Homo sapiens: one gene and its partners. The protein of the gene in region 4 interacts with the protein of the main gene of each other region in a biochemical or structural test. Each region holds a gene or a part of one and is shown on either strand. Other genes may lie near its edges. The genes, in order: BMX, ERBB4, KIF1C and PTPN21.

Region 1 (8,140 bases), on a different chromosome or scaffold from region 4:
TCAACCACTGACTTCGGCTCTCTTCATTTGATGCATAGACATAGAGAAGCCCATCTTTATAGACAATCTGGAAAGGAAAATATTTGGTGTGTTTATATATAATTGCACCATACTTCACTTTGGTGCACCTGCAAATTTTTTGTCATCCAAAAGAAACCTTGAGTTTGCTTATACAGTATACATCAGCTCTGGAATTAGATGAAAAAAATTTTCTTAAAAAATCCTCCAGTTATCAATTTGTTTTATCCCAGACACTCCTATACTTTGGAAAATTACAGCGATGATGTACCTCATAGTAGTGGTGAACACTGAGTTCTCATCAGGGACACCCTGGACTATGGACATTAATATGTTAGACATTACACGTGTCTTAGTATTGTTCTGGTCCATTTGCCTACCCAGTGCATGATTTCCTTACAGCCCACTGGAAAATGTTTAACTGCTCTATCTTTAAAAATACCTTCAGGGATGGAATGTTCTTTACTCTGCTATGTCATCTCTGCCAATATCCATATATTCTGATCATTATACAGTTCATACTTACATTGAGTAAAAATATGTTTCCCTGTTACTTTCATCTATTTCATCATGTGGCACCCCAGGAATCTCCAGAATATATACTTTTCTGTTTCTTAAGACAAATGTTTAAACGTTTGAAGATTACAATATCTTCTCCAGATCCTTCTCTAGTTTATTCAACTCTTGTTGGTAAATATACACAGCATTTGTTAAACACTTACTAGTTGCTGGGCTCTTTCCTAGCTACTTCAGTATTTTAATCTTATTTCAACTCTGTGAGAAATAGAAGTTGAGTATGTGTTTACAGTTGCACAAGTATAAGTGGTGGAACTAGGAACTCTCTGGGGGCTCCAAAGCCTGTGATCTTTTGAGCACTATGCCTCTATGAGGTGAGTTTGCAGCATCTTCCATGAGCATGCCCTCCCCTGGTTTCCCCCAATTGGGTAATTTTTTTAATGAAAACAATGTTTATGTAGAGATGAGGTCTCGCTATGTTGCCCAGGCTAGTCTTGAACTCCCAGCCTTAAGTGATCCTCCCTCCTTGGCCTCCCAAAGTGCTGGGATTACAGTCATGAACCACTGTGCCTGGCCTGGTAATATTTTTTCCAAATGGGAAGTATGGGTTGTTAATCAACTGGATTATTGTATTTCATTTTTGGCCACAGGTTCCTAATACTAGCACTGGGTAGTCAGGCCATCTGAAAGACAATCCATCTACCTTTGGATCAGAAATGTAAGATTTTATGCTATAAGAAAAGTAGGGCATGACTTAGATTAGGCCACTTCCAAAAGGTACTACCAGCATACACTACATACCATACCATTGTTTAAAATACTTCAGGGTAAAATGAAAACTCCTTAGCATGGTCACCTCTCCAGGCTATCTCTTTCACTGTCACATGGGCTTCTTTATTCATAGGGACTACTTAGTGCTCTCTAAATGTGTCATACTGTTTCACTCATCAGTGCCTTGACACCTGCTGCTTCCTTTGTACCACTGTCCTTCTCATATTTGCTGGGTTAAATTTTACTTGTCCTTCTCAACTTGAGTGTCACCTCCAATAGAATATCTCTCTAGCCTCTTGGAGTGAGGAATGAAACTTCCACATCCTGGGACTCCATGGATGCATTCTGCTGACCTCCACCTTAACTCTCACCCTCACTGCTTTGTAATGGTCTGTGTATTAGTCTATTTTGCCACTTCCCTGTAAATGCCTTGGGGTAGGGGCAGTGTTTTGTTCCCCATAGTATGCCTACTACTGTGTACCACATCGGAGATACTCAGCAATGTTTGTTAAAAGAGATGATCAGACCTGAGGCAGGTCAGGTCACTGCGACTTACGCTCCTGTCTTGCTTCCCTTCCCTTCCCTCCAGGGAAGGCAGATTGGTGGACAGAATTTTAGCAAAATGCCCAACTCCCATGTGGGAATATTCCAAGCCTTGTTTAGATTATTTTGAAATATCATTATTTTTCCTAGATATATTGAGTTCACGATAGAAAAATTGAAGGAAGAACTATCCACCCAATGCAATGTCGTTCTTCCCTTTACCTGAAATGGGTACTGTCTCTCTACAGGCGTCTGCTCCTCGAGATTTACTTTCTCCACACATCTGATTTTCTTAATTTCAATGGATCCTTTTCTGCTGCCCCTTTTCTGAATTAAAAAACAAAATGTAAGATACTTCCTGCAATACATCATGGTGCACAAGGAAAGGCATAAAGCCCAAGTTATGCCTGAGAGGGAGATTGGGGTGGGGGGTGGGCAATGGAGAGTCACTTCCTATTACCCCGTAATAGTCAAAATCCAATGACAACATAATCTATTCCTTGAGTCTGGACACAAACACATATATTCCAGTGGTTAATAATCTTGTTTGATTATCTTGAAATGTGTTTCAAATCACCTACCATGTGGTTAATATACTCAGGAAAATCAAGATTTAACTTCTGCAAAGCATCTTCATTTTGGCTCAGTCTTATGACAGTATTTCAGTGTTTTTACTATAGTAGAATTCTCAACTGTACAGGAATAGTCTTATTTCTAGCATTGTTTTAAGGCACTATTGCCATTTAAGGCTGGGTAATTCTTTGTTGTGAGGACTGTCCTGTGCACTGCAGGATGGTTAGCTGCATTCTTGGCCTCTACTCACTAGATGTCTTTAACACTTACTGTTCCTATCCCCCAGTTGGAACAACCCAAAATATCTCCAGTCTTTTCCCAATGTCACCTGGGGAGCAAAAATGCCCTCAGTTGAGAACCACTGTTCTAAAGTTATAATTTGCCTTAGTAAAGTTAACTAATGTTTTAAAATCCTTTATCTTGAATTCATTATACTTTCATTAAGAAAAGGTCATGTGATAAGTGGATAGAAGAGGATCTTCACAGTGTAAGTTAAGAAACCTGATATTCTTTCATTATGATCAAGTACTTTGTGGAGACTTAGGAAAAATAATAAATAGTATAAAAATAATGGAACACATGATGTCTCACCATTTTGTCATATTCATAGTAGGAAAGGTTTGTTTTGGTCAAAACAAAAAGCCGTTCTTTGTAATTATTTGGTGACATTTTCTTCTTTTGCTGTGATCTTTTGAGAAGAAGTTCTTCTAGAATAGATTTTGTATCCATATTATCATCCTAAACAAAATAAATAATTAAAATGAGTATTTGCAGCATCTAGGTAAGTTCTCTTTAACCTTCATATCTTTTCCTCAACGATTTCCTATTAAGGGATAATATAAATGCTGATTTTAATAAATGAGACTGATGTAGGATTATAGAATAAATTACACAATAGCTACAGTTTTTCTGCTGCCTTTGCTTTGGGTTTTATAAATATGTTGATTTTTAAAAAGCACTTTATACTTTTGACTCCTCCCACTGTGGATAATAAATTCATCATCTTTGCCCCATTCTCCAGACCACCTTATCAAAATGCTCCTTACTTTTTAAACATTCTATATGTGTTGGTTGAATTGAATTGGATATAATAAAACTTCAGAAAATTTAACTCCAGACAGCTCACAATTTATGAAGTAACGGCCTGTAATTTGACCAAATTACCCAAACCACTATGAGACACTGACATTATTGTAAATAACACCTGCAGCCCCTGATCATGGCCAGATCTTTAACATAAATTACACAGGTATAATTTTCAATATCTATGAGAATTTAAAATCAAAGTAAATGCCTAAGATAAGATAAAATGAGGAAAATGTATGAGGGTGCACTAACAGATGCTATCAAAAGAGATTTAAAAGAACTGAAAAAATGAGTACATTTACAAAGTAAAAAGACTCTTCCTTTTTATCCCAAAATCATGTAAAACATTAAAACTTAAGGTATTTCTGAAAAATAAATGCATTAATTTTCTAATTCTACTAAGACAGTTACTTCAACCCTCAGTCTAATATCAGGTCTGATCATGAAAAGTAGCAATGTTGAGCAGTAGGCCAGAGAAACAAACTTTCTTATGTTCTTCTTTGCTTTGTGAAATTGCATCGTTATTTGAATTCACATGCCCAATAGTTAAAATCTTTCTTTATTGATAATCTGAAGGCTTTACTCACCTTAGACTCGCTAGAGCCGAAGTATACATGTGGGTCCTTAACTTTGACTCTCAAGCTCTAAGCAAAAAGTTACTGCTTTGAGGCACCATCACTCATATTCCCTCTGGCTATGCCAGGGTCATGCATTAAAAAGAAGATATTTGCATCCCACTCATCAGTCTTGATCAGGAAGCACCCACACAGGCATTGCTCTGTCTGCATGGAGGCGGGCGCCAAGCGAACCCATCCAATCACTAGAGGGCACTTCTCACTGGCCTGGGAGTATGATGGACCCACTATGGCAGAAGAGTGAAATGAAAGGGAGACTAAGAAATACAGCCTGGCATTGAATTAACCATGGTTGGCTCCAGCCAGCTTTCCTCCTAACATAGACCACACAACTCTCAAAGTGGAATTAAGAAAACCAGCTTTTATTATTTACTATGTAGAACAAAAGATTATTTATTAATTCCTAAAATGTCCTCCAAGGGCATTATTTGATTTTTAGACAGAAGTAGTGGAAATCTTATCCATTCAATATAATAAAGTCTTGGTTACTTTTTCCCTGGGATATTGTTTTAGCTATTTAAAAAGGATAATTCTTTCACAAAAGTATAATGGGTTTCTTCTGAGTACAATGGGTACTATTTGCCATGGTCACTGGTTTCTTTGCCCAGTGATCAAAGACAGGGCAGAGATCAGGGTAGAGTAGAGCCTATGGAGGTAAGAGTAGCATGCCTTCCTTTTATCTTTGCTTCCATTGCAAACTCTGCATATCCACCTGCCCAGATAAGCTTATTTTCTACATCCAAAGTCTGTGGCCGGAAGAGAATTTGCTCGGAGACTTATGGAAACAATGAGGGTCTACTTTTTTTGAGTGAAAGCCTCCTTTGGGGAGGCAATATCACATTGGACATGGTTGTAGGGTACTTTTGCCTTTTATATTTCCGTATTTTACTAATGAAGCAGAAGGAGAAAACTGTGAAAACTCTTGTCAATTTTTTATATCCACAGCTGAAACATCATTCCTCAAAGCAGAGTGCTAATTAAATAGATCTGATTAGTTGAATAGAAAATTTACTTTTTAATTTTTTTAGATGCTGAATTGATTTGTGACATTAACAACACTGTATTAAAAATGTAAAAATCCCAATGTCCAAGGTGCTATTCAGTCTTTCCCAGTACTATGTGCTGGTATACATATTTTTCTGTCTATAGAACTTTCACACCTAGGCAGGGCACAGTGTCTCATGCCTGTAACCCCAGCATATTGCACATTAGGAGGCTGAGGAGGGAGAATCGCTTGAGGTCAGAAGTTTGAGACCAGCCTGGGAAACATAGTGAGATCCTGTCTCTAGAAAATTTTTTTGACAAATTAGCAGACATGGTGGCATGCACCTGTAGTCCCAGCTACTAGGGAGGCTGAGGCAGGAGGATCACGCCACTGCACTCCAGCCTGGGCGATAGAGTGAGACCCTGTCTTCCAAAAAAAATTAATAATAATAAAGAAAGAAGAAGAAAAGAAAAATAAAACTTTTATGTGCATCACACTAAAGGTGAGAATTTTTGGAATTTTATATAAAAAATTAATAAGATGAGTCACAGAGACCACTGACAAATTCACAAAGTTGCCTCTGTGTATTGAAAGGAAGAACATTGAGTAAAAAGGAAGGTATTGAGCCCTCAAGCACCTTCTCCAGTAAACCTCCAAGGGTTTACAAGCGTTGTTGCATCTGATGAAATATAACTTGTGAAATTTCAACATAATTGTTCATTTCAAAATCCTGCCCTTTATACATTTTTTGCTTTCATTTTAAGATTCATATGCAATATATGTTTATTCTATAAAGCCAAGAGATACAGACAGGGAAAAGAAAAACACAGCACATCTCTAGATGTTTTTCTTTTCAAATATTTATGTACATATGCTTATTTTCTCAAAGATGGGTTCACATACTGTGCACTTGAGTCCGTAATATGTTGTTCTCGTGTAACAAACACCTGAAGCCACACGTTTTTGAGGTACCCATCCAAGAGGAACAGTCCTTCAAAGCTCCACTCCCTAAGCTGGGCTACTGAGGCTTCCTAACAGTCTTGAAGGACCCCACCTTGATGACTCAAGCTTTTTTCATTTCCAGATCAGTTTCTTCTAAGATAAACCATGTGGTTTCTGCTCAGGCTTGGGCTTGCCTTTCTCCTTCTATTTACTTCTGTCCCTTCCTTATACTTCTCCTTTCTCCTCTACATGGCCTAAATTCTAATTTGAAAACATTTCTGTGGTCTCTCTTGATATAGAAGGATAGTTGCTGATGATTAATTTTTAGAAATGCAATATCTTCCCCCCTCGTATTGTGACAATAAATAAACAGGGCTTACTGTTAAGTCAAATGCCTGTCCAACAACTAGCAAACCCTGCTCTTCTTATGCTTATTTAGGGAAAATTCAGTTGGGAAGGTGAAACAAAAAACCTTTTATAGTAAAATGAGATCCTAAACCCAGTCAGTATTAACAAGAAATCTATTTCCATAGAAGAGCTAGTGGGATCTGGGTGGACTCTCATATTACCACCCACATAGAATAGACCTATCAATTTGCTTACCAAATAGCCCAGGCTGCCTATTTCCATAAACAGATGAAACTAGAAAGTGATTAAGGCACAGAGGAGACACAAAAACCTGGCAGAAATCAATATAGTATTTCCTATAAGGAAGCCAGCAGCCATTCGTTAACCTCTTACATACATAAAAGGTGTGTGTTGAATTAACATGACTTATAATCACTATAGTTTTTTAGGATTTATAAGGAAATGATGTCATGAGAGTAAGAAGTTCAAGTCGGCAGTTCTATTTGGCATGCTTGATTTTGAGCCTACAGTGTGTCCAACATTGAGTGACTGGTTCCAGAAATAAAGATCAGCTGTCCGTGGCCCTGAGTGACAATGAACAAGTTTGAGAGATGGGCTGCATAACTAATTAATATGAAAGATTGCTGTGGGGTGGCAGACTCGGAAGGCATGGAGGAGGTTACAGAACTGTCATTTGTAAACTGTGTCACCCTGGCCAAGCCCCTTCCCTGCACTAACCTTCAGTTTTCTGATCTGTAAATTGAGATAGGTAACAACTCTCTTACTTTACGGGACTTAAATGAGAAACCTTATGGTGAAAGTATTTGGCACATTGTGGGTACCAACTATGTTTTAAAAAAGAAAAGATGGGGAAAAAAATGTAGGTGCTAGAGTAGAGTCTATTCACTTTGCTATGAAAGGTCCAAGGAAGGAAAAGTTGTTTTTTCCTTAAGGTAGCCAAGTAAGGTATTTTAGAAGGGAGCACATTGAAATTAGACTTTGAAGGATGAGAGTGATTTTATGATAATGATCCTAGCCAATGCTTAAGGAGGGCTCACTATGTGCCAGGCTGTTTAGAGTTTACTGGTCACAACTGCTCTATGGGGTAGCTCATGACACCTCCACCTTATGGGGTAGGCCAGAACACCCCCACCCTATGGGATATTTTGTGATACTCCCAGCCCATGGGATAGGTTGTGACACATTCACCCTATAGAGTAAGTTGTAACATCATTCCCTGCTTATAGCTTATGGAGCTGCAATAGATAAATAAATTGCCCAGGTCACACTGCTAGTGGGTGGAGCTAGATTTGAATCCCGGCAGTCTAACTCCACATCCCATATTCGTGACCACGCTACTAATGCTAGAGAAGGACATGCCTGCTGTGTGACCCTCCTAAACCAGAGACTGCTCTAACCTAAATACAGGAAGGCAGTCATAGGATGTCAAATCTTATAAGAAACCTAGAAGTCATTTTACAGATGTAACACTGAGCCCCAGCAGCCTAAGTGACTTAGCCAGTACTGTTAACCAGTGACCTAAGAGGCATGGCCCTGGGAGCCAGCTTCAGGTGTCATACCTGTACACCATCCACTCCATGATGGCAGTAAACAGAGTAGGAGATATCTGTGTGTTCAGCCAAACATACTACAGCTTTGCTAAGGGACATAGTTTGGTGAAACTACCCATAAATCTGAGTCTTAACAGACCAGTGCAAGAGAC
Region 2 (8,140 bases), on a different chromosome or scaffold from region 4:
CGTTGTTTTTCATGCTATTTTAAGAATGTTACTGGAGAAAGGATTCTCATCCTAAGCTGTGCTACTAATACTATGCAGAAAACCAGGAGCTGCTTGGTAGTCTAACACCTTTTGTGGTGCAGATGCTTTGTGGTTCTGGATCTATCCTAGATCAGAGGCCATCTTTCCTCACCTGTTTACCACTTTCTTTAGGCAATCATTTAACTGCAAAATTTTTCCATACCTGCCCAAAATAGGTATAATCTACAAAGTTGGGTGATTTAAAAAATATACTCCGTGTAATTTTAATACTAATTTGTCTCAGATTTACATAATTGATTCTGCAAATTTCAATTGCTACAATTGGCCTCTGGAATCTGATATCCCCCCAAGCACTTTGAAGACTTTAACTGACATTTTAAAATTCTACCCTACTGGACTAAATAAGTTATTCTCTGGAAGGAATGAAACTTTTTTTCTCCCTCTTATACATGCTGAAATATGTTTTCCCAGGGGGGACAAAAATAAAACAAAAAACACTCAAACAACTGAAGTCAATTATATACTACAGAAATCATTCAAAAGAATTATAAAGTGGTGCTATTATAAAGCATTTGGGTCATTTTGGATTATTCCTACATGCATCTCTAGGTATTACCCAACATGTAGAAGTCTTGTGTTCTTAGGAGGAAAGAGACATTCACTAAATACATTTCTGTTACCTTAACAGTTAAAAGTTTGTTTTAACTATTCATTTTTTCCTTCTCCAAAATGAGTGATTCTGCTTTCTATAGCCCAGTAGAAACCATATGCATATTGTAAATCAGAAAAAAAAAATCAAGGTATAGTATCCAAAAAGAGGGCTGTGATGACTCGATGCAGATTTATTTAGAAAGGGAGGCTTATATTCAATTTTTCATAAGTACTGATATGAGATCCCTTTTCCTAGAGACTTCTCTGAATGGATAGGAGAGCCCTGAGCTATTAGATTGTGGCCCCTGAATCACTCTGTGTCTTTACCCCTGAAAAGTTTGAGGGTGAACTTCACTAGAAGGAATCTCACAAACCCTTCTCCTGCTCTACCATACTTTTTCAGCTCGCCTCACTTCTTATAGCTTAGAAAAAAACCAACTCCAATGTCTCCAATATTCTTGGCCAAGGACCACCATCTGCTTTTGGTTTAATGGTGAAGTTAGACTCTAGATAGGCTAATTAGTCAGTGATGCAATATTCTCCTAGACCAGTTTATGTTTGAATAATATTATTGAAATTATCCTGTTTGTCAACATCAACAATTTGAAGGATGTTTAACTTATATCCCAAATGAGTTTAAAGGAGATATCTTACAGTACAACTGATTATATGACAGCTATTCACAAAAGAGACTATGCAATCTGATTGTTGGAACGCATAGAAAAATTAAAATGTCATTTTAATTAAATCTCCTAGATCATAGAATTTTGAAGTTGAGGATGATATTCCATTTATCTGAGTGTTCCCCACAAAACATGGTGCTTTTAGTAGACACAGTTAGATAAAGGAGGTTTGGATGGATGGATGGATGGATTTACTTGTTCAGAATAGGAAGAAACACAAATTTCTTTGGATTTTTTTCTCTAAACTTTCTCTGCCTTAATAGATATTTTTACTCTAATTAATTAATCTTATACTATTGATTCTAATTTGGTCCCAATATTTTAACATTAGAAATATTTTTTAAAAATCTAAATGACTTGGGGTAGAATTTTCAGAAAAGGGCGACTTATATCTAAGTTTCCTAATTATTGATGTGAGGCCCCCTTTACTTGGAGACTCATCTCTGTCATTTGTTCTCATCCTTCATCTCATCAGGTATTCTTTCAAAATGATACATAATAATGATGGTTCTAGTACTGGATGCAGTATATGAAGAAAGGGAATTATATAAAGTATCAAAAGATTAGTGTGTTGGATAATAAAATAATTGCATGAGAAGATGTTTCACATTTATTTACAACTTTTGACCCAAGGACCTATCCCTAAGCTTTGAATGTTTGTGTTTTTCTTTTTATTATACCAATTTATGTGCAAAGAGTTACCTTCTACTTCATATAAATAGTCTCATACTAGAAATTCCATGGAATTCAAGCCAATCCTTACTCGCATTCCTTCTTACGAAGTATACGAACTGAACAAATTTCCTTGCGTAGCAAAGGTGACATATGAAGATAATGTGCTGGCCTCTCATCATAGTCCCTGGATACCGTTGCAAGGTTCCTAATTTGCTTGGTTTGGCATTTCCACAGTCTTTATCTTAGCTCTTTTTTTAAAAATGTACTTAAATTAGTTAATTTGCTGGTTGCTTCCATATTGCTTGATTCAAAATCCAAAATGGAGTTCAGAAAAAGAACAAATAAAATTACAGCTTAAGTGCAAACTACATTTCTGAGTATCTGCCAGGTAGACATACCCAATCCAGTGTGTTTCTTCCAGTTCAATGGATTCCCTCATTGGGCCACCCCTGAAAGTATCAGTAGTTTTCCTGAACCACAGAGAACTGTCTCTTAGTTTCCCTTCTACTCTTCAGACAACCAACGGCCTATCAAGTAGTGTCATTTATGGAGAAAAAAAAATGTTGAAAAATGTAAAGGATGAGGGTGAAGATAATTTGATAGCATGAAAAATATTAGCCTCCCTTTCTTATTTTAAAGATTGTATACTTAAAGTAGTGGCCATTTCACTATATTAAAATATTTCTTGCTTAAATTCTGTGAAGAAGCTTTGATGTAAACATCTTTGCAATTAGAAATTAAAGCCAAAAATAGGGGAGCAAATATAAAGGAATCGGTCAGAGCAAAACAAAATGAAAAAAACCAAAAAGTGTTGAAAACATAATTACTAGTTATAACTTTAATGGAGATTTTTAAATTATGAAAGTTGAGTTGGCCATTCTTACTTGCTAGGACAGAAACTGCTGGGGAAAGAAACTGGATTCTCAATTTCAGACACCATCATATGTTATAGAAAATGTTATTCTTTTGTTCTAATGGAAACTTTATTATGATTTCCAGGGATGCTAAATATGCACACATCAGTTCCTGCAGATAGGAACAGATAGCATGGGTGTTTCAACCATCTGCTTTAAAAAAAAAAAAAAAAAAGAAGAGGAAGAAAGAAACAAAGAAAGAAAAAGAAAAAGAAAAAAAGTGACAGCTAGTTTGATAGTAGGCAGCATTGCCTTACATTTTCTGGTCCTTCTCTAGCTGTTTCATTCTCCTGACCAACCCATGCAGAGAAATGAAGAAACATTGTGGTTCCTCCTATCTTTCTCTTTCAGTCTTTCCCTCTAATGTTCAAGTTAGGTAAGCACATAACTATCATTGCATCTCTGTATCTTCCACTGGGAAGTGTCAAAACTACTGGCCTTGGGGTAGAAGGAAGACCACCAGAGAAAGAGAGGGGGGTGGGGAAATTGGAGCAGGTGTGTCTCTCCACCTAAAAAACCACAACTGAGCTTACACCACAGTATTCCGGTGTCTGTAAGGTGGAGGCGGCAGCACAGTGCCTGGCTTCAGGGAGAACTCAGAGAGGTATTCAGGATTCTCTGCCACAATAGGCCGGATCCGCCCATTCTGTTTATAAAAATATTTTGTGCTGTACTCCTGCAGGTAGTCTGGGTGCTGAAGGGTGCTCCGAGGTGGCAGGCTGTGGTTCCAGTAGTCAGGGTTGTCAAACGCTTTCTTGGCCTTCTCTGGCATTGACAGTATGTTGTTCTTCAGGTACTCAGCTTTTCCCAAGGTGTTGGCAAAGGTGTTGAGGTACAGTGGCTCATTCACATACTCATCCTCGGCCTTGGGTGGACCATTGGATGCATTGTGATATTCGGGATTATCCAATGCTTGAAGGTCTCCATTTTTTCTCCGAGAAACAAAAGGGTTCTCCTCCACTGGATTCAGGTATTCTAAAGGAATAAAAAAATATCAGCTAACCTCTAGTTTCTGGAAAATATTAATCAGACCAAGGTTATACATAATGGTTAGCTTCTTTGTCTAGAACAAAAAAACCCACAGATTTGTTTTCATGATTTCTCACAACAAGTATTTGTGGATCACCATTGTCTTATGAAAAAAAGAGTAAGTGGGTCAAAAATGTTTATAATAAAACAAGAAGCCAACGAGGCCAGAATCAGAATTTCTATCTCCTAAATTTTTCTTTCTTTCTAATTGCATTTGTCTCTTCTGCATATGGGGCTGGTTGTTTCAATGTTTTTGTTTTCTAAAAGTTATTTATATTAGGAAATAAGACTACCTATTAGGATTAAATAGTCTTTAAATATACAGACAACTTAACTTCTATAAAGGATATTGAAAAAACAAGAATCTATAGCTGAGTTCCATGCCAAGATGAATAGATGGAGTGAAGAAATCATGTTTTTTAGTCTCTATGGTTTGCTATGATTGCCTATACTGGTAACAAGGATTTAATTGGAGATGCTTCTGAAAAAGGTTTTACACATGGAAAAGAAAGCATCAAAGGAAAAAAATTCAACTAAAAAAGCAAATCTAACAGATAGCTAACATGCCTCTAGTTGACCTGCTTGACATTACATATACTTCTACTTAATAGTAAAGTATAATTATAATATTTCCATTGACCAATCATAATCACAAAGTAGCAAACTATCAGCTTGAATTATATAAAATAAAATAAATTTTGTATATTGAAACCAGTCAATTAGTGCCTATTTTGTACGGATCAATCTAATAAATCCATCTAGTATAGGTATTGGCCTAAAAGGTGCTAATAATTATCACCATTCTCCTGAAGCTTAATTCCACATCTATGTCTATAATATAGACTGCACATAGACATAAACACGCATGTATTGTAAGTCCTCTGACAGTCCTCTCTTTTACTATATACACAAAGCCCTAAGCTATTCCTATTTTGAATTCAAGGCATGAAGAGGGCACAATTCTTTGTTGAGAGGCCATTCTGAAACAAACTTTCTGTCTTTTATCCTTAGCCCAATAAGTAGAGAGAAAAATCCTATTAAGTGAGGATTATTTTTCTCCAAATATATATATACAGAATAGGTAAGTATTTAGCATCATTTATTCAACTTAAAGGGCAGTAATGAATATCCCACTATCATATATAGGCCTTTACAAGACACTATCATTTCATCCTCCCAATTCTGTGAAAAAGAAGTACAAGACTTATTTTTCCAGCTTTGTAGACAGAAAAATGAGATTAAATGATGTGTGCAGGATACAATTAGTGTTGGGATAGAATTCAGGTCTTCTAACTCCTCTTGCATAATCTTCTTATTCTACTGCACTGTTTTTTATTATTGCCCCTGCAGGAGTTGGGTGAACTTTATGCTTAGTAACAAGTTTTAATTTGACAAGTGTATGAAAACATTTATAAGGAATGCAGAATTTGGTCTCTCTTACCAGATTCCTTAAACTTCTTAATTGAAAGAATAGGAATGTCTACACTAAAATTCTGTACTCTCTGAGTACGAGGTTAGACTATAGCAACCTTTTATAGAAACGGAGCTTAGTGTTCAGAGATAAAATCTGAGAATACAGTGTGACTCTATAGGGTGACTTGCTTTTCTCTTCACCTTACCTTTCCTCAATGCAATCTACTTATATATTGTCCTCATGCAAACTTATATAGCTGTCCAATAACTTTACGGTTGGAGTGAAAATCTCCCCAGAAAAGATTCTTCTTTGGGGTGAATCTGCCAAGTCTTCACAACGTCTACATTTGTGTCATTACTAGGCTACTATGAGCATCCAAACTCTTCATTACATTTTTATATGTATAGAAGTTTTAGATATGTAAAAATTTTATCTAGACAGATATATTTTAAAAGGTTATTTACAATTAGAGATCTCTAAATTTTACTTTAAAGGAGAGAACATAACCATATACCAGGCCCTTCTCAGAGTCTTAAAATGTAGTTTACTGTTGACACTAAAGACTGCGAGAGACATGATCATCATTTTTTAATAACAATCATCTATCTTCTCTGTTGTGATACTGTTAGCATAGAAGAAGAAAGGCTGTTTTGTTGCAAAATTGAAGCATTATTTGATTTGGGTGCTTAACATTTCTACTACTAACTTTACAAAATTATTGTTATGCTTTGTAAAACCACAGATTATTATTTTCAAATCTTGGTGGTATGCTTGTAAGTATATACAGGGTCAAACCTTTAATTTTTGAAAAACGTCATATAAGAACATAATATTTTCCTATAATAAACTAGGTTGTTTAAATGTCATCATTTAAATGAGTCAAACAAATCTTTTATTAGTGCCATCAAAAGCATCAGGCACTTTTGCCAACAATACCAGTCTTTCTGATCTCCGCAATTAAGTCCAATAAAGCTATGGTCCTGACACTTTGTAGTATGCTACTTCATTCAAATATTTCAACAAAATATGTTTAGAATAGTGCTTCTCAAGACTGATTGCTGTATGCAGATAGCCTGGGGATCTTGTTAAAATCCAGATTCCTATTCAGACGGGGCCTGCCTGAGATTCTGATTTATATAAATAATAATAAATAATGTGGATGCTGCTGATTCAGGGACCATACTACAAGTAGCAGTAGCCTAGGCCTTTACTGGATCACAAATGTTGTGCTGGTCAGCTATCTGGCAATTTCTATTCTGTACTTTGTTTATCTTGATGGAAGTGAACTTCGAATGGCGATCGTTTCTGAATAATCAGTTCATACCTTGTTTGGGTTTGTCTCGCATAGGAGTCATGTAACCTTCCTCATCCAGCTCTCCTCGTGGGCTCCGTTCTGGGGCAAACACGGTGGGGTCAGCACTGTACCTCTGGGTGCTACTGTCCTCTTGGACATGGGGTGCCACTGGCTTGCGTAGGGTGCCATTACAGCAGGAGTCATCAAAAATCTCAGCAGTAGCACCCTGTGCCACAGGAGCTTCTGGAATTGTGCTAGTTGGGGCTCTGTAGGGCACAGACACTCCTTGTTCAGCAGCAAAACCTCCATCTCGGTATACAAACTGGTTCTGTTAATAAGAGAAACATATGTGGAGAGAAGGCGTTGTTAGAAATAGTTTAAAAATGAATGTTAATAGCCACAAGGATATCAAAGCCAGTCTTTCAGAGAATAGTCATAGTATTTACTGGTTTTTTTTCCCCTAGTGGCTAATGGAGTTACAAACTATAAACACCTAAAATTTCCACTTTTCTTAAAAGATAAATCATCAGAAAATAATTTTGAAATACACATTCTAGTTTTATTAACCAACTGAAACATATTCTAATAAAATGTATTTGATGCCCTTTTCCCACAAGTGCCTATATTTAATACAAATTTCAAAGTGAATTTTTATGATAAATGCAAGTGTCATTAATTATAGACAGTTGTCATTAAGAATAGAAGTACATGGATATATTTTGAATAATCCTATGTCTTTATTCCCTTCGAAAATTCTGTGGTTATTATGAATTTGAGGCTCTAGTACCTAACTAGAGGATCATCACTATAATTCTGACTTTTTAGTACATGACCAATAATCAGGGAAGTAAAGATCACCTCCACATCCAGAAGCATAATTTATGTGCCCAGGTAAATCCTTCAGATAAAAATTGAAAGCTACTGTTGATGCATGATATCTCAATTTCGGATTATCAGCTGAGATAAAAACACATCTACAAAGGCAGCTACACGATGTACACCAAATTCTTAACTCACTGTTGGCAAAGGCAAAATGAGGAAATTATGCAGAGACGAGAGAGGAAACATGGTAAGCAAAGACCGAAAATCCTAAAAGATGAAGGTTGATTGTGAAATACTTACTCCTGACATGGGGGTGTAGGCAGGAGGAGGGCTGTGTCCAATTTCACTCTAATAGGAAAGAAAAATGGAATGATGGATATAATAAGAGGCAATATGAATGAAAAAATTAAAAAAAGAAACGAAAAAGAAAAGCCACATGGGTCGTATGAACCAAAGGGGAAAAAGTGCACAACAGTGAAGCTTCCTAAGCAGCACAATTGTATGCATTCTGACCATAAGCAAGCTTATTTATATGTTTTGAGGAAAATAAATATTTTAATTCAATCCCTGAAAAGGAAAATTGTACAGAAAAAGCAAAATTTTTCAATGGATTAGAAAAGTAAATAATAAACATTCT
Region 3 (7,373 bases), on a different chromosome or scaffold from region 4:
GACTAATCCCCTGGGGGTCCTATTTCTTAACATGTCCCCTCCCCAGGACCTAAATCCTCTGTCTCTCACTGCCTTGCTCTTCCCCCAGCCCAACAACCCACCGAAGTGTGTGACCAGTAGGAGTAGTCAAAGGTGAAGCTTTTGGGGGCATCCTTGCTCTGTTTAGGATTGATGATGGCTGAGGGGCAGGAGAGGGTAAAGGAAGGAAAGTCAAGGTCAGGTATTCCCAGTCCCTGCCCATACCCCAACCAGCCCCTGGAATCCAAGCATCCCACTCCTCACCACTGTCCTGACTCTTCTCTCCCCTTTAACATTCCCCACCCCCTCCAGCCACCAAAGCTAATTTTGGCTTCCTAGGACCCGCCCCCACTGAGCTGCCTCCCTGGATTGGGCAATGGAGGGCTCCAGGCCAACATTCCCCCTCCCAGGGACTGGGAACACGGGAAAGGCCAGCCTGCCCCAGCCCCCGCCCTTACGACTAGCACCTGCTCTGTGCCCAGCATTACCCTCCTCTTAGTTTGGCCCAGCGGGACTGGCCTGTGTGGTGGGCCCGGCCTTCCCTGCCTGTGCCCAGCCAGGCCCCGGGGACTCACTCACAGGTGGTGTTGCCCTGCATGCTGACCACACACTTGGCATCCTGGCTGGTCTCACGGGCGTTAAAGGGCCGAACCCTCACTGCCACTTTCACCGAGGCACCAGCCATAGCTCCAGACACTCCTGCCCTCCTCAGCTGGAGGACAGAGAAAGGAGTGGTGGGGTCAGAACCACTGCAGGGACCCAGACATTGCCTCCCAGCTTCTTCCCGGAACCAGTCTCTTCACATCTCCCCCAGAGCCACCCAGCCTCTCAAGGACCCAGCTCTTATTCCCTTGGCTTTCCTCCCAAATGTCACTGTCTTGAGAGACTCCCAAAGGTATTTCTGCCTCTCTCCCCAGCCATATTCCAGCTTGCAGGAACCTGGGCGGTCTCCCCCAGTTACCTGGCGTCCTGGCCCCAGACCAGGGGGGCTGTATCAGTTCTGGCTGCCACCGGCCCTCGTAGGGGGAGCCCCATCCTACTCCTGGGGCCTGGCCACACCAGCTGGGGCTCTGGGAGATACCCTGATTGCGGGGGAAGAGTTGTTAGAAGGCACCTGTGGTTCCAGAGACCCGTCTGGGGTTCCCAGGTTGGAGGGCCAAGGTTACGGGGGGAATAGCAGGAAAAGTACGGACAGCTGCCCCTCTAGAGTGGCTGAATGCAATGTGAATCCAAGGGCAGGGACGGTGATATTTTTATTCCTTGTCACTCGCAAATGTACTGAACGTTCAGATAGAGGACAGAGAGAGAAAGAGGCTGGACAGAGGGCAATTCAGAGAGAGGGGCACATGGGCAGAGACGTGAGGGGGGTGGGAAGAGAGAGAGGAGGGGCAGAGAGTCACAGACACCAAGAAAATTAGAGAAATAAGACAAAAGGCAAGCCTGAGGTCATGCTATGAAGGAAAGAATGGGAGAGGAAAGGAGGAAGAGACACAGCACAGCAAACACACGGTGTTAAAGAGACAGGGTGGGGAACTCCGGCGCCAAAGCACAAACTGGGAGCCCAGAAGAGAGACCAGAGAGGAAACTGCAAATGCAAAACCTGTCCTCAAATTCCCCCACAGTGTCGGCAAGGGAGAATCTAGTTTCCACCTGAGGCCCACAACCTCCATGCACCAGGCCAGTAGTGCAGATGGGCAAAGTCCAAGGACTGTAGGTAGGGCCCAGGACTGGGATCCACAGGGCCAGCTGTGTGGGCTCTAAGCCCCTTGCCCAGCCCCCAGCACTTCCTCCTCAGGATCCGGGACAATGAGCAGGGGAGGGTGGGGTCATCCTGTAGCCATCAGACCAACCCTCAGGGCTCCACCCTTGGGGCGCCCAGAAATACCTGTGTTTGAGGGTAGAGGGTCCCTGGGGCCTCCCTAAAAGGGAGAAAGAAAAGGAAGCCGGCTGGCTGGTGCCAGCCCCAACCTGGGGCTAGTGCTATGGCGTCCACTGCCCTGGGGAAGGTGCCAGGCTGGAGCCCAGGAATGTGGGTGATCGGGTGCCCACACCCTGGGAGGAGAGGCTGAGCAGCCCACGCCCACGGACAACAGGGAGGAGGACCACGAAGGATAAGGGATGCGGAGCCCCCTCCTGTGGCCCCAGTGGACCCCAAACTCCTGTCACGCTGGGCCTCCCCTCACCAGTCTTCCTGGGCAGAGCATGGGAGGGTGAGGGGCTGGTCTGTCCCAGGACAGGAAGGGAGTAGCTGGAATCACAGAAGCTGGCTCAGGAAGAACAGCCCTGACCCCCTAGACCCTGACCAGGGGAGGGAAGGACACTGGTGGGGACAAGCGATGGTGACGCCGTTGCTGCAGCTAATGGGACAGGGATGGGGTGGCACGGCTGGGGGCCAGCGGGGTAAGGGAATAGAGGTAGGGACAGGGGTCGGCCGGTGCAGCTGTGAAGGAGCCGTGGGGTACAAGGAGGATACTGGGCGGCTGGGGTGGGGCCGACCGGCCCGAAAGGGGGTCTTGGGCCACCTGCACCTTGCCCACCCGGCGGTTCTCACACAGGTCCCCGCCCGGCCTCTCAGGGCGGCCATGCGGACCCGTCCTCCTGTCCAGCCAGCCGGCGGCCGCCCGGGCCTGGCACCTCTCTGCGCCTCCGCGGAACAAACAGCACATGATCCCGACTCTTGAGCCTAGATCGCGCCGCCGGACCCCGGCTCCCCGCCCCCCAACCCGGCACATTCCTCCGCGGGCGTCCCTTCCCTCCCCCTTCCCCAGCCCTCACCTCGGCGCGGCGGGGCTCCCGGAGCAGCTCGGCGGAGAGGGACAAGCTTTCCGGGAAGCGTGAGGCGGAAGCGGGAAGGATCTGGGGCCGGTTCGGAGCTGCCCCCGCCCCTCGCCGGGTGCCCGGGCGGCGGGCGGCGGACTCGCGCCCCGGGGGCGGCAGCAGTAGCGGCGCCAGCGGCCGGCGCCCGCCCGGGCAGCGCGAGCTGGGGCGGGAGCGAGGGGCGGGGGACGCGCGAGCGCGCGCGGAGGGGCGGGTACGCGCGGTCCCGGGAAGGAGCCGGGAGCGACCCGGGCTACTCTTGTTAAAGGGGCAACGCTCCTGGCCTGTGGGGCCCAGCGAGCGGGAACGTGGGGACCGAGCTGCGGACGCAGAAGGGCGAGCAGACGCCGCAACCCAGGAGGGTTGCAGACGCCTGAAGAACAGGGAAACGTCGGGGGCTGACCCGCGGGGGCACCCAGGCCCCGGCCCAGTTCCCGTCGCCGCCGTTGGAGGCGCGTCCAGGGGGCGGAGCCTCCTGCCGAGGCCCGCCCAGAAGGTGGCTCCGCTCAGGCCCCGCCCTCAGACGAGCACCGCCCGCCGGCTCCTCCCGCGGCTCGAATCGCCGTCTCTCTCCTCCCCGCCCCGCCGAGTTCTAGAATTCGCCGCGCAGCTGCTTCAGGTGCTGGGGCCAAATGCGGCCGGCCGTGGCGCGGCTACTCGGGCGCTCTGTCCCCGCCTGGCCCTCAAGTTCGGCCGCCCTGGACGCCGCCTGAGGCCCAAACAACCCCTTCAGGCCCGGGTGCCGCCTAAGGCCGGAGCTGCCCTCTCAGACCCGGGGCGTCCCTCAGGCCCCAGCCTGCCCTTCAGCCTGGGCCCACCACCTCAGGGCCCCTCTCGAGGGAAGCAGCCCCCAGTCGTGCCCTCGGGCGGGGCTGCCCGGAAGGTCCGGCCACGCCCGGTCCACCTGTCGAGGGTCCCCGTCGCCCTTTCAGGCGCAGGCCGCGCCCTCCGGCCCGGCGCTTCCCTCCAGCGGGGCTCCAGGCAGCCCCTCAGCCCCAGCCGGACCCTCGGGTCCTCATCCACCCTCGCAGGCGCAGGCCGTGGCTACCCCGAAGTCAACTGTGGAGGATCCTTCCTGGCTTCCTTCAGCTCCATCCTGCCCTTGGATCTAGGTCACCCGCTTGGACCCAACTATCTGAGGCCCGAATGCCCCGCAGCTCCCGCTGCTCCCTCGCGTTCTGCTGACCCCCCTCCGAGTCAGGACATCCCCTTTAGACCCCACTTTAGGCCCTTTCAGCCCAACTCCAACTAGCCCCATCTGCCGCTTCCGCACGGTATACTTCTCTCCGCTTTTGACCTCACCTGCTTTCCCAGCCCATCCCTAGTTCCCTTGGATAAATACTAGTTCACCTCTACAGTTCCAGCTGGCTGCTTCTGTCCTTCGGGAGCCTATGTGCACTCTCTCCTAACTTATCTAGTATTCTTTTTTTTTTTTTTTTTTTTTTTTTGAGACGGAGTCTTGCTCTGTTGCCCAGGCTGACCTCGGCTCACGGCAACCTCCGCCTCCTGGGTTCAAGCGATTCTCCTGCCTCAGCCTCCCGAATAGCTGGGATTACAGATGCCTGCCACCACACCCGGCTAATTTTTGTATTTTTAGTAGAGACTGGGTTTCGCTGTGTTGGCCAGGCTGGTCTCGAACTCCTGACCTCAAGTGATCCGCCCACCTCAGCCTCCCAAAGTGCTGGGATTACAGTCTTGAGCCACCGCGCCTGGCTTTTTTTTTTTTCTTCTTAGAAACAGGGTCTCACTCTGACGCCTAGGCTGGAGTGCAGTGCAGTGGTGCGATCTTACCTCACTGCAGCCTTGACCTCCCGGGCTCAGATGACACTCCCACCTCAGCCTTCCGGGTACAAGCGCACACCACCACACCTGGCTAAACTTTTTCGTATTTTGGTAAAGAGGGGGTTTCGCCATGTTGCCCAGGCTGGTCTCAAACTCCTGGGCTCGAGCAATCCACCCACTTCCGCCTCCCAAATTGCTGGGATTACAGGCGTGAGCCAGTGTGCCCAGCCTTAACTGCCCTTTCTCCCCACCCCAACTGGCCTTCAGGTCATCTTTGGCTGTCCCTATATGCAACTGACCTCCCTATCCACAGGCATTCCCAACTGCCCCCTCCTTCCCTGTCACCAGTTGACCATTATGTCCACACTTAACTTTTTTTAATTTCTTTTTTTATTTTGTTAGAGACAGAGTTTCACTCTTGTTGCACAGACTGGAGTGCAATGGCGCGATCTCAACTCACCGCAACCTCTGCCTCCCTGGTTCAAGCAATTCTCCTGCCTCAGCCTCCTGAGTAGCTGGGATTACAGGCATGTGCCACCATGCCCGGCTAATTTTTGTATTTTTTAGTAGAGACAGGGTTTCTCCATGTTGGTCAGACTGGTCTCGAACTCCCGACCTCAGGTGATCCACCCGCCTCAGCCTCCCAAAGTGCTGGGATTACAGGCGTGAGCCACCACACCCAGCCAACTTTTTTTTTTTAAATAGAGATGACGTCTCTCTGTATTGCCCAGGCTGGTCTCCAACTCCTGAGCTCAGGCAATTCTCTTGCCCCAGCCCCGCAAAGTGCTGGGATTACAGGTGTGAGCCACTGCACCCGGCCCACACAATTAACTTTCACTAACCACTCATAGTTGATTCATTGAGAACCCTCAATTCTGTCACTTCTCTTACCCCCAAATGCCTCCACCCCACCCAGTCTCCACTGTCATCATTTTTCAATTTCATTGTCCCATATTGCCAGTTGTCGCTTAACTGCCATCTGTAAATTTCACTTATTCTGCACATTTAGCTTCAGAAGATTTGCTTTCTCCTTTATCTTTTTACCACATCCACTTTTCCTGTGCTCACTATCTTCAACCTAAATGTTCAATTAACAGTCCAGCACTACAAATACCTTTTTTTTTTTTTTGAGACAGAGTCTTGCTCTGTTGCCAGTCTGGAGTGCAGTGGTGCAATTTCAGCTCACTGCAACTTCCTACTCCCTGGTTCAAGTGATTCTTCTGCCTCAGCCTCCGGAGTAGCTGGGATTACAGGCATGCGCCACCATGCCCAGCTAATTTTGTATTTTTAGTAGAGACGGGGTTTCTCCATGTTGGTCAGACTGGTCTCGAACTCCCAACCTCAGGTGATCTGCCTGCCTCGGCCTCCCAAAGGGCTGGGATTACAGGCATAAGCCACTGCGCCCAGCCGCTACAAATACCTTTTAAGCTCTCTCTTTTTTCAGCATCCATACATTCTTTTTCCATTCTCTAGATCTGCTACTGGCCTCATCCCTACAGACATTATATGAATGAATGCCTTTTTTTTTTTTTTTTTTTTTTTTGAGACAGAGTCTTGCTCTGTCCCCCAGGCTGGAGTGCAGTGGCGCGATCTCGGCTCACTGCAACCTCCGCCTCCCAGGTTCAAGCGATTCTTCTGCCTCAGCTTTCTGGGTAGCTGGGACTATAGGCGCGCGCCACCACACCCGACTAATGTTTGTATTTTTAGCAGAGATGGGGTTTCACTATATTGGCCAGGCTGGTCTTGAACTCCTGACCTCATGATCCGCCCGCCTTGGCCTCCAAAAGTACTGGGATTACAGGCGTGAGCCACCACATCCAGCCCGAATGAATGACTTCTTTTCCATTATCCTCCCAGCACCAAAAAGGAGACTAACTACCCAGCCCCGTCCAGTCATGCAGGTGCAGGATGATGGAGTCAACCTCATCCCCTTTGCCAAGTGAGTCCTCCCACTGGGTGGGGAGCATGGGGATGGGATGGAGGGGATATTGCATGCCTGGGTCCTTCCCTAAGAGGATTAGGAAATAAAGAACGGGAAATGCAATGCCTGGTCTCAGGGGATTGATGATTCATTAATTTATTCAACAAATAGTTTGAACACTACAATGTTCCAGGGACTGTATTAGGCACTGGGGATTCAGCAACTAGCAGGATAGGGGTCCTGCTCTTGTAGAGCTTACATTCTAGAGAGGGGAACACAGAATGTGCAAACAAATACAATTTCAGCTAATGATGGGTACTATTTAAAACATAAAACAGTGGGCCAGGTGTGGTGGCTCACTCCTGTAATCCCAGCACTTTGGGAGGCCGAGGCAGGCGGATCACCTGAGATCAGGAGTTCGAGACCAGCCTGGCCAACATGACAAAACCCCATCTCTACTAGAAATACAAAAATTAGCCAGGCATGGTGGTGCTCGCCTGTAATCCCAGCTACTTGGGAGGCTGAGGCATGAGAATTGCTTGAACCCAGGAGGCAGGGGTTGCAGTGAGCCAAGATTGTGCCACTGCACTCCAGCCTGGGCGACAGAACAAGACTCCATCTCAAAAAAAAAAAAAAAAAAAAAAGGCCAGGCACGGTGGCTCACACCTGTAATCCCAGCACTTTGGGAGGCCGAGGTGGGTGGATCACGAGGTCAGGAGATCAAGACCATCCTGGCTAACAAAGTGAAACTCGTGTCTACTAAAAATACAAAAAAATTAGCCGGGTGTGGTGGCGGGCGCCTGTAGTCCCAGCTACTCGGGAGGCTGAGGCAGGA
Region 4 (8,102 bases):
GCTCACTGCAACCTCCATCTCCTGGGTTCAAAGGATTCTTCTGCCTCAGCCTCCCGAGTGGCTGGGACTACAGGCGCGTGCCACCACACCCAGCTAATTTTTGTATTTTTAGTAAAGACAGGGTTTCACCACGTTGGCCAGGATGGCCTTGCTCTCTTGACCTCATGATCCGCCTACCTCGACCTCCCAAAGTGCTGGGTGTGAGCCACCGTGCCAGGCCCAAAGCTTTGCTTTTCTTTGAGTACTCAGTCAACCTTTTTTTGTCAGCCTTTTGAGTCTGCTTTTCCAGACTCAAGCAGAAGCTGATCACAGTGATTAACGAGACATTACCAGTCCATTCAGACTATAAAGTATAACCATGTATAAATTTCCTCACCTACTACAATTACATATTCATCTGTTGTTCACATGGTGAGTCTTTGAGGACAGGGGTATGCATCTATTTACCTTTCTCCTTGCAGCACCTGGCTTCTAAATATATGTGGGCTGAATGGACAAGTGTTTTCCAATAGTGATTATCACATGGCATAGACATACTTGGATCAAAAGCCCTAAGTGTTGGGAATTACAGTCACAGCAGTCACTTGCTACTGAGGCAGACATGCTTCTCCATTTCAACAAACACACTGCCAAGATAATCATTTCTCTGATGTCCAGGGGAATCTATCCATAAAATGGTTGCTCTTTTGCAACTGAAAAGGTGTTGCATGTGACACAGTATTGAGTGTGGTAGGCAGAACTTAAGGTGCAGATTCAGAGACCGAAGACTTCACATTTCTATTTTTTTTTTTTTTTTTTTTTGAGACGGAGTCTGGCGCTTGTCCCCCAGGCTGGAGTGCAATGGCGCGATCTCGGCACACTGCAACCTCCATCTCCCGGGTTCAAGCGATTCTCCTGCCTCAGCCTCCCAAGTAGCTGGGACTACAGGCGCCCTCCACCACACCCGGCTAAATTTTGTATTTTTAGTAGAGACAGGGTTTCATCACGTTGGCCAGGCTGGTCTCGAACTCCTGACCTCGTGATCCGCCCGCCTCGGCCTCCCAAAGTGCTGGGATTACAGGCGTGAGCCACCGCGCCTGGCCACACATTTCTAGTTCTAGCCCTCACTGTCCCCTTCCTCAGGGATCATCTTTTTTTTTTTTTTTTGAGACAGCGTCTCACTCTATCACCCACGCTGGAGTGCAGTGGTGCGATCTCGGCTCACTGCAATCTCCGCCTACTGGGTTCAAGCGATTCTCCTGCCTCAGCCTCCTGAGTAGCTGGGACTACAGGCGTGTGCCACCTGCCCGGCTAATTTTTTTTTTGAGACGGAGTCTCGCTCTGTCGCCCAGGCTGGAGTGCAGTTATGCGATCTCGGCTCACTGCAAGCTCCGCCTCCCGGGTTCACGCCATTCTCTTGCCTCAGCCTCCCAAGTAGCTGGGACTACAGGTGCCCACCACCATGCCTGGCTAATTTTTTATATTTTTAGTAGAGATGGGGTTTCACCGTGTTAGCCAGCATGGTCTCAATCTCCTGACCTTGTGATCTGCCCACCTTGACCTCTCAAAGTGCTGGAATTACAGGCGTGAGTCACCGTGCCGGGCGTAATTTTTGTATTTTTTTAGTAGAGACGGGGTTTCACCATATTGGCCAGGCTGGTTCCGAACTCCTGACCTCGTGATCCACCCGCCTCGGCCTCCCAAAGTGCTGGGATTACAGGCGTGAGCCACCGCGCCCAGACAGGAATCATTATCTTTGCGTGGCAGGGCATTCATTCAATTTGGATTTTTGCAGATGATGATAATTTATACGGTGGGTATTCACCATGCTATCAAAACAGATTAACTTTTGAACTTCTAAGAAAACACTAGTCAGTGCACCCACCAAACCACAATTTCCTTTCCTTTTTTTTTTTTTTTTTTGAGACAGAGTCTTGCTCTGTCACACAGTCTGGAGTGCAGTGGCGTGATCTTGGCTCGCCACAACCTGTGCCTCCTGGGCTCAAGCGATTCTCATGCCTCAACCTCCCCAGTAGCTGGGACTACAGGCATGCTCTACCACGCCCAGCTAATTTTTGTATTTTTAGTAGAGACGGGGTTTCTTCATGTTGGCTAGGCTGATCTCGAAATCCTGACCTCAGCTGATCTGCCCTCCTAGGCTTCCCAAAGTGCTGGAATTACAGGCATAAGCTACTGCACCCAGCCTTCTTTCATCTTTTTGTCTTTCATCATTTTATGTGCTGGGCTTTCTTTTTACATTTTATTTATTTTAGTAAGAAATAACTTCCAGTGTAAAAGTATGTGTAAGTATGCCACCTTCTGGATAACAAGAGGGGGTAAAGATACTTATATGTAGTTTCTTGTAACTCTGCAGAACATCTTTGTAAGGATACAGAGGAATGAGGGAACACTGGTTACCTCCCAGGAGAAGAGCTGGGTGTCTAGCAGGCAGGGTGAGAAGGGGACTTTTTACTTACACCCTTTTGTATCTTTGGGGGTGGCACCATATAAATTATCTCACTTCCTTAGATATGCAACACAAGCTAATAATTTTATGTCTAATATTTTGAAGGTGTTATTCAAGTGCCTTCCCATGAATGTTCCTGCCAAATTAACATAGCTGAGGGAAAATAGGGCTTAGGTACTTGGTCAGTAAATGACATCTGTGGACTGTGAGGGAGGAAGTTCAACTCAGTTGTCTAACATCTCTTGGGTTTTATGGTCATTTTCTATTTTTAAAATTCTTTTATTTTCTTCCTGATTCAATTAACAAGTTTTTATTTAGTGCCTACTCTTTGCCCAGTACTGTCCTAGGAATCCTAGGAGATATAAAAGAAGCCGTCATGAAACAACTTTTACAGTTCTTGCCAAGTGTGGAGATCACTGTGGAATGGTGTGGCTAGAAAGTCATCCTGGAAGCAGAGTCTTACTTGCAGAGAAGCAGAAGGCTTAGACAAGTGGAAAGAGGGCAGGAGGGGCTGCTGGCCAGGGGCAAAGCTTGACAGGGGCAGAAAGCGATATAGGTGGTCAGAGAGGCCCGTTTGGAAAGTCCCTATAGGTCAGGCAGAAGAACTTAACCTTGGGAGTCCATTAAGAGTGATAAGAGAAGGAAGCCTGGTATTAGCAAGGAAATAAGAGAGAACTGAGAAACCAGATGCCAGGAGACCACCCTTGTTGCAATAATCCGGATGTAAAATGATGAGGGTTTGGATTTAGAATGTTCCAGGGGGAACAGAAAGGAAACAAAGAATTCATGAGACATTTCAAAGGAGGAAATACCAGGTCTTGATGACAGGCTGGAGATGATAATGGGAGAAGTCACACATGATTCCAGTTTTTCTACCTTGGGAAGCCAGCAAAGTGACTTCTTTTTAGATCTCTTTTCTTTGCTCACACACAAATTGACCCCCTCATAGAGTTCAGTTGAAATATCAATTACAAACAGAATTGATCTATTTTTTTTCCCTTAGAAACACAGGTAATCTTATTTGCCTTTAGCTAAACGACCCAAGATGCACCTTGCTGGGCTTTGCTCTTGGATAGCACTCATACCTCTATGACAATGCTCCCCACTTTGGCCTTGTACTGCGTGTGTGGTGTGCAGGTGCGTTTATCACCCACTAAACCAAAAGTCCGTGTTGTGCAGGGACCACGTCTCATGCAGAGTTAAGTATTCAAAAGTTTTTGTTAATTGTTTAAGAAAATGAGATTTACATGAAACAATACTTTAAAAAGCTTTCCAGAAACAACAGCATTAAAACAAAATCACTGAAATTAAAATTTACATAAATTAAAAGGTTCTGTGTTCCACATGCCAAGAAAAGATCTTACACTATTGTAATAGTGGTAGGGTCACACAGTTTTATTCCTCAGCTTAAGTGCTGCAATACAGTAATAATGCAGTACAAGAATACTGTATAATAAACCTTAAACGAAACACTTCATATATACTTTACACAAGTTATTGGATATTGCTTAGTATTTATTTCCCCCACCCCTGCTGTGCAAAGATATTAATATCCCTCTTTTATAGGAGAGGAAACAGGTAAAGAGAAGTTAAGAAACTTGCACAAGGTCATCCAGCTAGTAAATGTTGGAGCTGGGATTTGACAACTTTGTCAAGTCTCCATCCTTAACAGTTCTGCTCTATATTGCATAAGCAGACAGCTCCCTTTTGGGGACTGACAGGTTATTTGAGGCATATGAACCATTTTTGGTGGGGGGGCTTTCCCACCCAGTACTGGAAGTGTCTAGTTATATGGGGCATAACCTTAGGAGCAAGCAGGAAAAGAAGAAATGTATTCCAATAGTGTTCAGAAATATACCAGAGTAAACGAATAACCATCAATAACAGCATTTTACAGCCTACCTAATAACACAGGAATAAAACCCTTTATCTGGAACCTAAATAATACCCCCTCCACTCATTTTATTAAAAGCCTTGCTTTATTTGGAAACTCTTAAAATAAGTGGTCATACGATTAAAAAAAGCAGCGGCGCGCCCCCTCCCCGGCGGCCGGGCGCAGCTGTCCGCGCCTCCCCCGCGCGGCTGCCCGCATTCCAACTCTCTGAGGTCACGGGCCGCCGCCGCCTCCCCGGATCCGCCCGCCCGGCTCAGGGGGAGGGACGCCTGGGCCCGGCCGCCCCGCTGCTCCGGCCGCGCGTCCCGCGTCGGTCCGACGGTCTGTCCGTCCTCCTGCCACCCCCCGCCCCCACGGGGCTTCTTTGTGCGGCGCTCCTCGCCGGCCGGTCCCACCTCCAGGCCTCGCCCCTCGCCGTCGCCACCGCCGGACTCTGCCCAGGGGAATGGTCTGCGAGCCGGGTTTTTGGAGACAGGAAGTGAGGCGTGCGAGCCCCATGAGCGCGCCGCGGCCCGGGCTGGCGTGCGGGTGCGGCTGCGGCGGCCGCGCGGCGGGGCCCCGGGAGGCGGGTCGCTGAGCGGGGCGCGCGGCCCCGAGGATGCGGGAGCGGGAGCGGGAGCAGGTGAGGGCGCGGTCCCCGGCCGGCGGGAGGGGCGGGCGGCTGGCCCGAGCGGTGGGGTGTGTCCACTCGCCCGGACCCCGGAGCGCGCCCGCGGCCCCGGAATCCCGGAGAATGGGGCGCGGCGGCCAGACCCGTAGCGGGAGCGTAACAAAGAGAAAAGTCTTGTTTTTCAGGTTCGCTCTCATATACTTGAGTAATTTCTAAAAGGAGTCTTGAACTTCTATTCCGAACGCCCTGGCCGATTGTTGCGGGTTAATTCTGGATCAGGGTTTTAAATGTGTTAGGCATATTTGTGCCTCTCAGAATATATAAACGTGAAATTCGCCAGATAACTTTGGCGAGAAGGGGCGCAGGGAAGGACTGTTTGGTAACGCCTGGGTTTGTTTTTGGAGTAGAGTATTTACTCTGGAAACAAGAATTCTTGGATCTGCAAATTCCGACTTGTGATTTCTGCAAATCCTGATTAGATTGGCCGCTCTTGGCATGCTCGTCCTATTTTCTTTTTTGCTGAGAAAGCCTTATACTAATAGCGTATGCTCACAAACACATTCAGAACATTCGTGTGCTCCAAGTGACAACTGCTGTATGCCTAATAGTTGCTGACAGTTTATTTATTTTTTTAAGTTTGGGACACGACAGTAATTTTACTCTGAATATAGTCCGTTTCGTTTCTAGGGCATTTTATTCTGGAGCATCTACGCACAGATGTTTTCTCCGTGAGAAACATGGGTTTAATGCTATAGCTATAGATATTACTCTAAAAATGTCACATACTCTCTCCTTTTAGTGCTTATTTTATTTTAAAGCAACTTTGGCAAAATTACATGTGGTAAGGACCTTAATAGGAAAGGGGAAACGCTGTAAGATTGAGAGGTAAAGTGTATTTGAGGAACTTTTGGAAAGGGTTGTAGAGAGGGAAAATTAAAATGAATTCACAAATAGTTCAGACTGCCTTTTGTAAACTTGTACTGAAGCAGAATCTAGTATGTATCTGTTTACTTACCACAAAACGGAAAGATTTTGTAGAGAAAAAATTATATCCTAGTTTTCCTTTAATAGCTATTTATAAATTATGTTTACTTTAGTAAATTATAATTCCAGACCCAATCACTTTCATATTATTGCATATTATTTTATACCTGAAACAGACCTCCCCAAAGAACTCTTAAATTTCTACTCATCTTGGTTTTATTATCTTCAGACATTCATAATTGTATTACACCATTTGGCAACAAATACTGCATATTACTGAAAATTAAGATGTATAAATCATTGATAAATTTGTAAATTATTAAACAAAATCATTGTTTTAACATAGTGGGTTTTATATAAATAAGCAAAAAGCAAGCCATTCTTATGGATAGATCTTGGGGGGATGCACCATGTACACACACACTGCAACTTTTTCAATTTCATCTACCAAAATAAGAGATAATTTTGACTTTTCCTTTATCCCTGATGCAGTAATACATTTCAAGTCTGAGGGACAATTGAAAGTTTTACTGAGTTTGCTTAATCAGAGCTTAAGTTAATAATTAAGTTATACAGTGTAGTATCTATTGCTTTCAAGGCATAGTTCTATGTAGTGAAAAGACTACCATATTTGAATGGCACCTAATACAAATATTTATCTTTCCTCTACACATATGCAATATCTTGTCTGTTCATCTACACTACTTAATCCGCCCGGTTTCCAGTTACCATAATTTTTATGTAAAATTGAAACCCACCATCTGATCTCATGAAAGGGTGTTTAGTATGCATATTTATAATCCTTAAATATTTACTCTTGGTTTATCAATTTTCTAGTTAAAAGCTTATTATTTAAAGTTGTCATTTGCTAATTTTTTTCCATCTTGCTTTACTTATTTAGTTTATACCCCTGAAACAGCAAAGAGCATTGAAAACTACTGGAAGTGGAAACCATATCTTTTAATACTTATTTTCTGTTTCCCTCCATAGTATGGTGCTTTTACCTACAGAAGGCACTCAGCAAATGCGGTTAATTAACACAGTGCTTTAGGTAGTTGCAGCGTTGTTTTTTTCTTCTGGCCTTCCCCTATCCCTTGTTTTTAATATTTTGATTTTCCTGGCTATGGGAAATAACCAGAGCTCAAAACAAACAAAAAAACTAGCCAGATAAAACCGTGGTTGGGTCCTTATTAGAGATACAGCTCTGTATGTAATTATAGCATGGTTGTAATCTCTTTAAAGACAGCGACGGTTTAGGGATTCGTCTTAGATTTCTCACGATGCTCATTACGCTGTCTTGTTCCCAGAGACGCAATACACATTTGTGGAATGGAATTTCAAAATGTTAAGTTTGGCAAAGCCGAGGGTAGTAGCGGAACCCTTTTCTCCAGGTCTGCCATTCCCTAACCCTAAGTGCCCCATCACCTCTGGGCCTGAGACGCAGTCAGGAGAGCAGGACCCAGGAGAGGACTGGGACTGTGGAATTTGGGATCGATTCCCAGCTCAGCCCGTCCTAGCGTGAAACTGCGAAAGCCGCTTCTCTTCCTGAAGCCTGGGTTCTGTCTGCCAGATGAGAGGGTCGGGAATAGATCTTGCCTCTCCGCGCGGTCCCGGGCCGGAACTCAGCGTAGCCAGCTATGGCTGGGTCTCGCTAAGCGATTCATCCCCAACAGGCAATCTCTGCGCAGAAGGAAGGTAGGGAACCGTCTCAGGACCCTGGAAATGTCCGGGATTTTGTAGACTCGTTTAGGGGGAAAAAACTAATCCAGCTGATATAAAAATCCCCAGCTAGTGCTCGCCCCAGAAACCATCAACAGGTCTGGTTAAAAACTGTTAGAGCCCGGCTTGGTGGCGCGCACCTGTGGTCCCAGCTACTCGGGAGGTTGAGGCGGGAGGATCGCTTGAGCCCAGGTGTTCGAGGCTGCGGTGAGCTACGATGGCGCCACTGCACTCCAGCCTGGGTGGCATAGCGAGACTTCGCTCTATAAAACACGTTGTAAGGAGCGTATTTTGAGGTCCTGTGGCTCCAAAGCGGGCATCCTATGGGGCCCGCCCAACCTCTCCACCGCCAGTAGGGCACGCGCTGGTCCCTTTAAATGTTCCCTTCGGGAGCCGAGGGACCGGTCCTTTTAGAGCGCGTCCGTCCAGAAACGCGGCTGCAGAAAGAG

The links.
Region 1: the proteins of PTPN21 (region 4) and BMX form a complex in vitro, tested with the Homo sapiens proteins (one study listed by BioGRID).
Region 2: of the proteins of PTPN21 (region 4) and ERBB4, one has a biochemical effect on the other in vitro, tested with the Homo sapiens proteins (one study listed by BioGRID).
Region 3: the proteins of PTPN21 (region 4) and KIF1C form a complex in vitro, tested with the Homo sapiens proteins (one study listed by BioGRID).

The regions. Positions count from the first base shown.
Region 1 is NC_000023.11:15,503,364-15,511,503, reverse strand, and holds part of BMX (cytoplasmic tyrosine-protein kinase BMX), read right to left. Parts: intron 4,197-8,140; exon of another isoform or gene 4,095-4,196; intron 3,160-4,094; 5' UTR 3,151-3,159; coding exon 3,013-3,150; intron 2,176-3,012; coding exon 2,071-2,175; intron 68-2,070; coding exon 1-67. UniProt on the Homo sapiens protein: Non-receptor tyrosine kinase that plays central but diverse modulatory roles in various signaling processes involved in the regulation of actin reorganization, cell migration, cell proliferation and survival, cell adhesion, and apoptosis.
Region 2 is NC_000002.12:211,380,142-211,388,281, forward strand, and holds part of ERBB4 (receptor tyrosine-protein kinase erbB-4 isoform JM-a/CYT-1 precursor), read right to left. Parts: intron 7,852-8,140; coding exon 7,804-7,851; intron 7,010-7,803; coding exon 6,712-7,009; intron 3,920-6,711; coding exon 3,474-3,919; 3' UTR 1-3,473. UniProt on the Homo sapiens protein: Tyrosine-protein kinase that plays an essential role as cell surface receptor for neuregulins and EGF family members and regulates development of the heart, the central nervous system and the mammary gland, gene transcription, cell proliferation, differentiation, migration and apoptosis.
Region 3 is NC_000017.11:4,993,577-5,000,949, reverse strand, and holds the start of KIF1C (kinesin-like protein KIF1C), read right to left. Parts: upstream 3,001-7,373; 5' UTR 2,794-3,000; intron 1,938-2,793; exon of another isoform or gene 1,904-1,937; intron 1,101-1,903; 5' UTR 980-1,100; intron 731-979; 5' UTR 704-730; coding exon 598-703; intron 179-597; coding exon 102-178; intron 1-101. Other genes in the region: protein INCA1, read left to right, coding at 6,513-6,556. UniProt on the Homo sapiens protein: Motor required for the retrograde transport of Golgi vesicles to the endoplasmic reticulum. Has a microtubule plus end-directed motility.
Region 4 is NC_000014.9:88,551,511-88,559,612, reverse strand, and holds the start of PTPN21 (tyrosine-protein phosphatase non-receptor type 21), read left to right. Parts: upstream 1-4,917; 5' UTR 4,918-4,962; intron 4,963-8,060; exon of another isoform or gene 8,061-8,102. Other genes in the region: proline-rich protein 2-like, read left to right, coding at 2,823-2,850, 4,553-4,917.